4 separate regions of the Homo sapiens genome follow, and regions 2, 3 and 4 are each linked to region 1. Evidence: fine-mapped expression QTL. A gene starts in region 1. Each other region holds a variant in brackets. All regions are shown on one strand. Distances are between the middles of the regions.

Region 1 (2,686 bases):
CAAGCTTCTCTGCGCCTTAATTCCTCGTCTGTATTTGAGTGTTCATTGAGAACCTCCTCTGGGCTACACATTGGACTTTACCCAGAGGATGGGAAAGGAAGATGGGTGAAAAAGTCTGGGACAGGGTCCTGGTGCTTCAGCAGATGAAAACTTGATTTGGATTACTCAACCTTAAAATCAGCTCATATAATAATATCCATTTCCCAGTGGGTGTTGGGAAGCTTAATTACCACTTATGATATGTTTTTACGTTCTCAGAAGAAAGGTGATACATCAAGACTAAGTATGACTATCGCAATTGTGATTCTCTCAAGCTGCCCTTGGGGCTAAACAGTATAAAATTGTCATTTGTGAAACTCTGCTATTGCAACAAAGGATGACTATTATCCATAATGATAGTAGACTAATGTTTAAGGCATTGTTGTGCTCATGAAAACTTAAATCTGCCCAAAGTGAAGATGGTAAACTAGGTCACCTGCTATGAGCTTGTCCTGCTCTTGGATTCCAAAAGCAAACAAAATCCTTGAGGAGGTTGACACCTGAAAGAGTACCAGATAGCAACAGCATTCTTTGTACACCTAGCATGTACCAGGCAGTGTGTTATGCACACGATCTCACTGAATCTTCCTAACACGCTTAGAAAAGAGGTTTTTATCATTTCCATTCTGCGGAGGAGAAAAACTGAGACTCAAAGATGTTGACTTGCCCAAGGAAGATGAACCTGGTACTTGTAAGTAGGGCAGCCTGGAGTGGAGGCAGAGGTCAGGTGTGAAGTGACCACAAAGTTTAGACAGGATCCAAGGAGGCTCTGAACTGGGTTAGAAAAATGAGGATGATTTCCACGTCTCCTGCTTGAATACCCCCCTGCGTACGAATAGGCCTGCTGCTAAGGGAAAAAGGGAACCCAGGAGGGGAAGGCGGTTGGCACGGGAAGTGACTTTGGTGCTAGGTAACTTGAGTAGGGAATAGCCAGCATATCTGGACACGCTGGCTTGGGAATTGGAAGGGAAGTTGGGACCCAAACTTTGGAGTCGTTGACAGATGTGACAGGTGAAGCCTGGGATGACATCGCCAAAAATGCAACGTCTCACTCATTGTCACTACTCCCAGGGCTCAGTCGTCACTGGGGAAAATCTCCAGAAGGTAGCGCGGGCCAAGGTGACAGGTGTCTGCCAAGATCTGCCCGCCAGACTCCCGGGCGGCGCGCTCCCTCCCTGCAGGCCTTCAGCCCGTCAGCATCCCCTTCCTCGGGGCCCTGCTCACTCCCAGCCTCCATCCCCCTGCCATCTCCTCCGCCGGTCGCGTGCGGACACAAGGATGGGGACCTCCCAGCGAGGAGCGCTCTGGGCGGGGCTCCGGACGCATGCGCGGCCCTCGTACGGAAGCCCGGAAGGAGGGGCAGGGGGCGGTGGCTCAGGTTTCTCCGGGCGGCGGCGGCGGCGGCGGCGGCGGCGGCGGCGGCGGCGGCGGCGACGGCGACGGCGACGGCAGCGGGGACGGCAGCAGTAGCGGGAGCAGCAGCGTGGACGCGGCTGGCGCTGGCGCCATGAACCCGCTGTAAGGCGCAGGCTGTGCAGCACGGGGTGCGGGGGAGGAGGAGGAGGACGCCGCGGTGAAGTTCTCCGCCATGAACCTGAGGGGCCTCTTCCAGGACTTCAACCCGAGGTGAGGCGGCGTCGTTGGCGCCCCCGGGAGTCCGCGCTGCGGGCTCGGGCGCGGGCTGGTGTTCGGCTCCGGGGAGGCACGGCGGGCGAGATGCTGCAGCCCGAGGACCCGGGCGCCTGCCCGAGCCTCCCTGCGGGTGCAAGCGGTCCCCAGGCAAAACAGTCGGCCTCGGCGCCCGCCCGCTTCCTCCTCCCGTGCCCGGTGCTTTCAGCCCCTGCCCGGCCACGGCCGGAAGGGCCCGGCCGCGAGCCCCGTCCTGCCCCAAGGGAACCCCATTCTTTTCTGCTTGCTGTCCCTCATTGGTGTCCCAACTTCTTCGTCTCGGTTCCATCCTCTTCTGCGCCGCTGCGGGCCCTCCATTCTCCGCGTCAGGGCCGTCTCACTCGACCCAACACCCCTACCCCCACCCCAGCTGTTTCCTCCAGTTCCTCGCAGTCCTTGGGGTTTTCCTTGGGTTTATGCCCATCCCTCTCTTGTTTGCTTCTTTGTTGAACGGATACCTGAAACACTGTTGAATCCTTGGAGTCAGTGTCGGGGTATGGCAATACCTTATATAATGCATTTCTGGGTGAGCCTGATCATTTTCCATACTCATTTTCTCATCAGTCTTCACTACAAGTTTATTTGCAGGAAGTAGATATTGCTGTCCTTCTTTTCCAGATGGGGAACACCCAGTGGACAGTGTGGAGAAAACACTGGCTAAGCACTCAAGCGCCTGTCCTTGCACTTGCCCGACTGTTTTGTAACTGTTCTTTACCCCAGGCTGTGAGCTCCCTGAAGCTGAGACCATCTCCTGCTCATCTCAGTGTCCCCAGCGCCTCCCACCCACCGTATCTGGCACATAGTAGGCACATATAAAATGTTTGTGGAACTAAACTGAGCCCAAAGACTTGGATTGGAGACGAGGCCATATGTAACTGGGTGATTCTCTGCCCTTCTTTGGCCCTTCTGTAAAATGAGGAGTTGGCCTAACTGATCTCTTAAATGCACTACTCTCCGAAAGGAGTATCCGTTTCCCTTA
Region 2 (2,686 bases), 77 kb before region 1:
AAGAAAAAAGAAATGAAAAATTAGCTGGGTGTGGTGGCGTGTGACTGCAGTCCCAGCTGGTAGGGAGGCTAAGGTGGGAGGATCACTGGAGCCCAGGATGTCAGTGCTGCAGTGAGCTGTGTTCACACCACTGCACTCCAGCCTTGGAAATAGAGTGAGGTCCTGTCTCAAAAAAACAAAACCAAACCAAACAATCAAAAACCAACAGATGCCTGAGCTTGACAGTCATCTTGGCTGGTTAAGGAATTACGTCTGTCAATTTTTGAAAAAATAGAATTGCCATCTTTGCAATATTCTGTTCCCTATCAATGATATCATATACTGCCTTGTTTATTTGGGTGCTCTTTGAACTGGATATATCAGTACTTGTATAGTTGCCTCAGTAAAAATCATACATGCTTTTGTTAGTCTTCTTGTTAGGTAATTTTTGGATATTGTTGCTATTGTGAATGGGGTATTTTCTATGACCTGTTCTTAATAGTTATTGTCTGTTTTGCAAATCTTTTGATTTTGCTTTATTGATCTTCTGTTCGCTATTTTTCACACGTCTCTTATTCATTTGACTATTTCAAGTGTGCATTTTTTTGAATTTTCTAGATAGACTGTTGCATTACCCTACCAAATATCACTCTTTCTTTCCAATACACATACCTCTTATTTATTTTGGTATCCATATCTGTGGCTTTGTATTCCAATACAACTTTGAAAAATAGCAATGATAGCATACATTTATGACCTGTGCCTGACATGAATGCGTCCAACATTTTACAATTAAGTATATTTGCTATCAATTTGATGAAACAAAATTTCCTTCTACTCTTAATTTTCTAGTTATTTTTATCATGGATGATTACTAATTTTTTCAAAATATTTTTCTGTATCCATTAATATGATCATATGTTTTGCCTCTATAATCTTGTTAATATAGGGAATCACACTGAAGGTATATTTTAATGTCAAATTGTATTTTCATTCTTTGGATATATCCCGTTTTTCCATTTAGTACACTGCCCTAATGAATTGGCTATTAATTTATTTAGGATATTTGTTGCTATGTGAGTAACTTTGGTTTAAGTGTTCTTTTCATGGTGAGGTCCTCTTCTGGTATTTGAAACAAAGAACACTAGTCTCAGAAAATGAGTTCCACAGTTGCCCATCTTTTTGTATGGTTTTTAAGAGTTTGCTTAGGATGGCAATGAGTTCTAATTATTTGGTAAAACTGGCCTCTGAAACTTTCTTTTCCTGGATCATTTGTGGGTGGCTTGAACTGAGAATACAGTTTTAGTTTGTAATGTTTGATTAAAGTTTTCTGTTTCTTTATGGACCAATTTGATCTTTTTTTTTTTTTTTCGAGACAGAGTCTCGCTCAGTCGCCCAGGCTGGAGTGCAATGGCACAATCTCAGCTCACTGCAACCTCCTCCTCCCAGGTTCAAGCAATTCTCCTGCCTCAGCCTCCTGAGTAGCTAGGATTTCAGGTGTGCGCTACCACACC[C/A]GGCTAATTTTTGTATTTTTAGTAGAGACGGGGTTTCACCATATTGTCCAGACGGGTCTCGAACTCCTGACCTCGTGATCCACCTGTCTCGGCCTTCCAAAGTGCTGGGATTGCAGGCGTGAGCCACTGCGCCGGGCCATTTTTTTTTTTTTATAAAATATAGTTCATTTCACTTAGGATTTCAAATTTAATGGCATGATATTATGATGAAATAACTTTATTAAAGTGTCAGACATGTAAAATAGTATAGTATAATATACCCAATATACTTGATATTCAGCATCAAAAATCTTCAATCCATTACTAATCTGTTTCCAACTATACTTCTACCTACCCCACGTCTCAAATGCTGGAATAATGTAAACCAACTCAGTAACCTTGGATAGAATACTGGATCCAATAAGCCAGTTCATGGTACAGTGCAGCTGACCTGGCTCTGAGACAGCCTATGGCTCAGAGAAAAGGGTCTGGCTTCAATAGACCAGCCTCCCTAGACCCCTACCTCCTACTCTCTGTTCCAGGGTCCTGAGGTACTGCACGCCTTTGTTCTCTTCTAGACACATGCTCCTATAATACTGCTAGCTAATACTGCTTTCCAGACACCCTTGGGTCTCTCTCCAAATATCTTCTCTGTGAGGCCTTCTATGAATAACCTTTCTTTTTCTTCATAGAATTTGTGTCTTTATTATTTATTTTTGTAATTTCACTTTCATTTTAGATTCAGGGGGTACGTGTGCAACTTTGTTACATGGGTATATTGTGAGATGCTGAGATTTGTGATATTATTGATCCCGTCACTCAAGTAGTGAGCATAGTACCCAATAGTTGGATCCTGACCTTTCATCATATACAAAAATTAATTCGACATGGATTAAAGATTGAAATGTAAGACCTCAAACTACAAGAATCCTAGAAGAAAACCTAGGAAACACCATTCTGGATATCACCCTCGGGAAATAATTTATGACTATGTTCTCAAAAGCTATTGCAACTAAAACAAAAATTGACAAGTTAACCTAATTAAACTCAAAAGCTTCTGCTCAGCAAAAGAAACTATCCACAGAGTAAGCAGACAACCTGCAGAATGGAAGAAAATATTCCCCAACTACGCATCTGACAAAGGTCTAATATTCAGAATCTATAAGGTGCTTAAACAATTGAACAAACAAAAACAAATAACCTCATTAAAAAGT
Region 3 (2,686 bases), 28 kb after region 1:
GGCCATAGAAAGTGACAAGGGAGGCCATAGAAAGTGACATGGGAGGCCATAGTGACATGGGAGGCCATAGAAAGTGACATGGGAGGCTATAGAAAGTGACATGGGAGGCTATAGAAAGTGACATGGGAGGCCATAGAAAGTGACATGGGAGGCCATAGAAAGTGACATGGGAGGCCATAGTGACATGGGAGGCCATAGAAAGTGACATGGGAGGCTATAGAAAGAGGAGATACAAGGTTCTAAGTGCAGGCGATAATGATCTCTATTTGGGACTGGCTTCATTTGAGGTGCCTTTAGGAGAGCCGAGTGGCCTATGCACAGCTGGGTCTGCTATGCAGCAGGAAGGCTAAGTTGGAGACAGATGTGAGAACTAACCATGAAGGAGGTAATAATGCAGACCAAGGGTCTGGTTGAAATTTCTTCTCCCCCAGTCCAGGGTGCAGCGGGTGAGTGAAAATATGTGTGTTTGTGTGTCTGTCTTCCTAGTCGGGAGAGAAGACTGAGTTTGTGGCTCTGCGGAGCATCACCATTTAAGGAGGGGGAAAAGGAGACAGAAGGAATTACCAGAACACTCCAGAGGGCTCCAAGACTGTATGGTGGGATCTAGATGGCCAGGAGGAGGGGAGCAAAAAGGAAAGAGTCATCCACAGTATCAGTAGGATGCCAGTTGAAGTGTTTTTGCTGCCTCCCGGTTATCGGTGACTTTGATGAAAGCTGTCTTCTGGTGGTCATGGGGGTGGAGGCCAGATCACAAGGAAGCTGGGAATGGTAGATGAGATAGTAGGGGCTTGCATATTCATTACTGTCTCGCAGAGAGAAACCTGAGGCTAAGAGGGGTCTTGGATCAAAGGATGGGGTGGGTTTATCTGGTTTCGGGGCTTTTGTTTTTAATGAGAAGGAGTCATTTCTGTGCTGCTAGGAGGGATCAATGGAATAGGTGGGGTTAAAGATACAGTACGGAATCTACAGTTGATGGCTTGATGTGACAAGGTCCTCAAGGAGCCTGAAAGGAAGGGGTGGGGTCCAAGGGCAAAACCGAGGTATGAGAAGAAGGATGCACAAGGATGGTTTCGAGTAGACAGTATTGTTGGTAGGGACATGAAGGAAGTTTAGTGGTCTATTGCAGCTAGCCTGTGTTCCCAGTGAACCTGGAAACAAGGTTCTCATCTGTGCTCAGGCCTCAGGCCAGAAAGGGCAAGGCAGCAGAGGGGCAAGGCAGCAGGCTGAGCCCCATTTCCCCTTGCCATAATACTGCTGTGCCCCTCTGGTACCGAAAATCAGGAGTTTCCAGTGCAATATAATATTATACAAGTTACACTGTATTATAATGTGTATTGTCTTTTAGTGTGTTAACCAAATTACTGCAGTATTAAATGCAAATTATACTTTGTTTAACTGATTCTTCTCTTCATTTTTAGTTAGAAATCCTGTGTTCTGTCAACATTCTCCAGTTTATATTCATTGCCTTAAGACTGGACAAGATCATCCACTGGCCCTGGCTTGTATGTAACTTTTAAAATCCTTAAATAAA[G/C]TTCTTTTTTATTATAAAAGTAATTCATATTCACTGTACAAAGCTTGGAAAAGACGGACAAGCAGAAGTAATAGCCTAATAGTCACCCATAATCCCACCATGGGGAGATAACATGGTTAGTGTTTTTATGTCTGTGTTTTATACAAACAGTTTGGATATAACTGTGTGCACCATTTTGTATCCTGATTTTTTTGTTTTAATGTTGTATCATAAACATTTTATCATGTTAATAAAAGGTCTTTATAAACATGACTTCTAAAGTTTAATTGATACAAAATATTCTTCAAGTGCATGTATCAGACCATCCTCTTATTTCTAAAATATGGTATTTCCATTGTTGCCAGTGTTGAATGATTTTAAATCATACTGCAGTATATATGTTTATGCATTAAAATTTTTGCCTTTTGTTTTTTGGTTGTTTTCTTAGGAAATAGTCCAGAAATAGTGTTACTGAGCTAGAGGTTGGGAACTATTTGAGATTCCTATATACGTATACTGCACTGCCAACTTGCTTTTCCAAAAGCCATACCTGGCCAGGCGCAGTGGCTTACACTTACAGTCCCAGCACTTTGGGAGGCCGAGGTGAGCTGATCACTTGAGCTCAGGAGTTCGAGACCAACCTGTGCAATGTAGCAAGACCCTGTCTCAAAAGAAAAAAAAAAAAAGCCATACCCATTTACACTCTTGCTGGTGGTGGCATCTATGTCATGCTTCTAAACTGTGACTTCAGTTACTGGGCATTTGGTTGAAATTAACTGTGAATAAATGGGTAGATGGATGCAGAGATAGAAAGATAAGTGGCAAGGTAGAAATTAGAGAACACAGTATAGATTCCACTATTAAATGCATGGAAAAAAGATGGAGACTAAAGGCAGAAGAGTTCCATTGCCACTGGGAGGTAAGGTCATGCTAGTGTTTTTGTTCGGTTTTATTTTCTCTGTTGTTTGATGTATAATTTTGCATACAATATATTTTATGTATTAAATATAGCTACCCTTAAAAAGTGAAAAGTATAGTAAAGAATTGGGAGCAGAGAAGAAATGAAGGGAACCTAAGTATACTCCATATTTAAAGATGGGAATAATCACTTCTGCCCAAAGTCTTTGATAAAACATTCATAATAAAAAATATTCAGTCACTCATCCTACAACTTCA
Region 4 (2,686 bases), 130 kb before region 1:
AATACCTGGAGGACACCCAGAGAGAGCAGGCACCCTGAAATCTGCTCCATCTGTCAGCCTTTGGCATGCCATGCAGGGCTGTCCGTGTAGTGCCCCTTCACTTTGTGCCTCCCACATCTCAGAGAGGTAGGGCCCTTGGTCTGAGGCAGGTTGTCAGGTCAGCAGAGGGATAGACACCTGCTCAGCACAGGGTGGAGTCCAGGATCTGCCAGTGGGTCCGGAATTGGTGGGTTCTTGGTCTCACTCACTTCAAGAATGAAGCCGTGGACCCTCACGGTGAGTGTTACAGTTCTTAAGGGCGGCGTGTCCAGAGTTTGTTCCTTCTGATGTTCGGAGTTTCTTCCTTCTGGTGGGGTTCGTGGTCTCGCCGGCTCAGGAGTGAAGCTGCGGACCTTCGCGGTGAGTGTTACAGCTCTTAAGGTGGCGCGTCTGGAGTTGTTCGTTCCTCCTGGTGGGTTTGTGGTCTCGCTGGCTTTAGGAGTGAAGCTGCAGACCTTCGCGGTGAGTTCGCGGTGAGTGTTACAGCTCATAAAGGCAGTGTGGACCCAAAGGATGAGCAGCAGCAAGATTTATTACAAAGAGCAAAAGAACAAAGCTTCCACAGTGCGAAAGGGGACCTGAGTGGGTTGCCACTGCTGGCTGGAGCAGCCTGCTTTTATTCTCTTATCTGGCCCCACCCACATCCTGCTAATTGGTCCATTTTACAGAGAGCCCAGTGGTCTGTTTTGACAGGGTGCTGATTGGTGCCTTTGCAATCCCTGAGCTAGACACAAAGGTTCTCCACCTCCCCACTAGATTAGCTAGATACAGAGTGTGGACACAAAGGTTCTCCAAGTCCCCACCAGAGTAGCTAGATACAGAGTGTCAACTGGTGCATTCACAAAACCTGAGCTAGACACAGGGTGCTGATTGGTGTGTTTACAAACCTTGAGCTAGATACAGAGTGCCAATTGGTATATTTACAATCCCTGAGCTAGACATAAAAGTTCTCCAAGTCCCCACCAGAGCAGCTAGATACAGAGTGTC[C/G]ATTGGTGCATTCACAAACCCTGAGCTAGACACAGGGTGCTGATTGGTGTGTTTACAAACCTTGAGCTAGATACAGAGTGCCGATTGGTGTATTTACAATCCCTTAGCTAGACATAAAGGTTCTCCAAGTCCCCACCAGACTCAGGAGCCCAGCTGGCTTCACCCAGTGGATCGGGCACCAGGGCCACAGGTGGAGCTGCCTGCCAGTCCCGCGCCGTGCGCCGGCATTCCTCAGCCCTTGGGTGGTCGATGGGACTGGGTGCCGTGGAGCAGGGAGTGGCGCTCGTCCAGGAGGCTCGGGCAGCACAGGAGCCCACGGAGCGAGGGGGAGGCTCAGGCATGGTGGGCTGCTGGTCCCGAGCCCTGCCCCGCGGGAAGGCAGCTAAGGCCAGGCAAGAAATTGAGCACAGCAGCTGCTGGCCCAGGTGCTAAGCCCCTCACTGCCCCGGGCAGGGGGGGCCAGCCGGCCGCTCTGAGTGCGGGCCTGCCCAGCCCACACCCACCCGGAAGTCGTGCTGGCCCGCAAGCACCGAGCGCAGCCCCGGTTCCCGCCTGCGCCTCTCCCTCCACACCTCCCCGCAAGCTGAGGGAGCCTCCGCCAGCCCAGGAAGGGGCTCCCACAGTGCAATAGTGGGCTGAAGGGCTCCTCAAGTGCTGCCAAAGTGGGAGCCCAGGCAGAGGAGGCGCCGAGAGTGAGCAAGGGCTGTGAGGGCTGCCAGCATGCTGTCACCTCTCACCAGTAGTCAAGGAGAGGAATATTGGTGAAGACTGAAGGTAAGAAGGTACCCTCTCACATGCCAAGAAAAAGGGATCTCACAAATCCCAGCTTCCTCTGTTTCCCTCGGCCTCTCTTATGATGGCATACTGGGTGATGAGCAGAGCATGCCCAAGTCTGGCCTCCTGATAATAGTCCTGGGTGTGATCTTCATGGAGGGGAACTGCGTCCCATGGAGGTTATGTGGGAAGTCCTCAGCATTATGGGGGTGTATGCTGGAAGGGAGCACTTCCTCTTTGGGGAGCCCAAGAAGCTCCTCACCCAAGATTGGGTGCAGGAAAAGTACCTGGTGTACCGGCAAGTGCCTGGCAGTGATCCTGCATGCTATGAGTTCCTGGGAGATGAGAGAGGCCTGAGGGGACCCAGCACCCCAGGACAGGGGGCCCACCCCGCCCCCATCTTAGACTGAGGTGCCTCCTCATTCGGCGTTGGGAATCTGAGGGATGGAGACTCAGGTCCGCAGAGGGATGGGTAAGAAGTGGGATCCCTCCCATTGGCGTTGGCTATGTACTCAAGAACTTGCATCTTGCTGGTCTCAGGGTGGGCCCTTGGACCCCACAGGGGACATTGGTGGAAACAGCAACACCACATGTCCCTTATTGGACAGAGCAAAGGGATATGGAGAATGCTCACCCTGTGTTTCCTAAGGACTGCAGGGCTGCAGCAGCTAGGACGTTCCATGCACCCCACATCCTCTCCTACAGGCATTTCAGGGTCCAGCATCCTCCACAGCAGCCTCCTGTATGGACACACATCACACAGGACTGGGACAATTCTGAACATCACAGGGCAGAGCAGATGGGAGCATACCTGTGCCCATCCGTGGATAGGTCTTGAGGGTTTCCAGGTGCCCCAAACCTGCCCCCTGAGGGGCTGGTGAGAGAC

Evidence for each region.
Region 2: its variant is fine-mapped to the expression of TMEM185A in whole blood (TOPMed, PIP above 0.99).
Region 3: its variant is fine-mapped to the expression of TMEM185A in lung (TOPMed, PIP above 0.99). The same link has a PIP of 0.9 or more in uterus and whole blood.
Region 4: its variant is fine-mapped to the expression of TMEM185A in whole blood (TOPMed, PIP 0.94).

What each region holds. Positions count from the first base shown.
Region 1 is chrX:149,630,522-149,633,207 of GRCh38, reverse strand. TMEM185A (transmembrane protein 185A) reads left to right here and starts at 1,416. Exons shown (of 7, transcript NM_032508.4): 1 at 1,416-1,665. The coding sequence starts at 1,628. RefSeq lists silencers at 1,454-1,863, 1,874-1,923.
Region 2 is chrX:149,707,950-149,710,635 of GRCh38, reverse strand. It overlaps a transcript of MAGEA11 not described here. Among named protein-coding and RNA genes, the nearest start is that of MAGEA11, 2.8 kb to the left of the region's middle. The variant C/A (reference allele first, on the strand shown) is at 1,494.
Region 3 is chrX:149,602,803-149,605,488 of GRCh38, reverse strand. TMEM185A (transmembrane protein 185A) reads left to right here. Exons shown (of 7, transcript NM_032508.4): 4 at 1,419-1,502. Among named protein-coding and RNA genes, the nearest start is that of HSFX2, 8.8 kb to the right of the region's middle. The variant G/C (reference allele first, on the strand shown) is at 1,532.
Region 4 is chrX:149,757,473-149,760,158 of GRCh38, reverse strand. It overlaps the pseudogene LOC100420322. Among named protein-coding and RNA genes, the nearest start is that of HSFX1, 15 kb to the left of the region's middle. The variant C/G (reference allele first, on the strand shown) is at 1,027.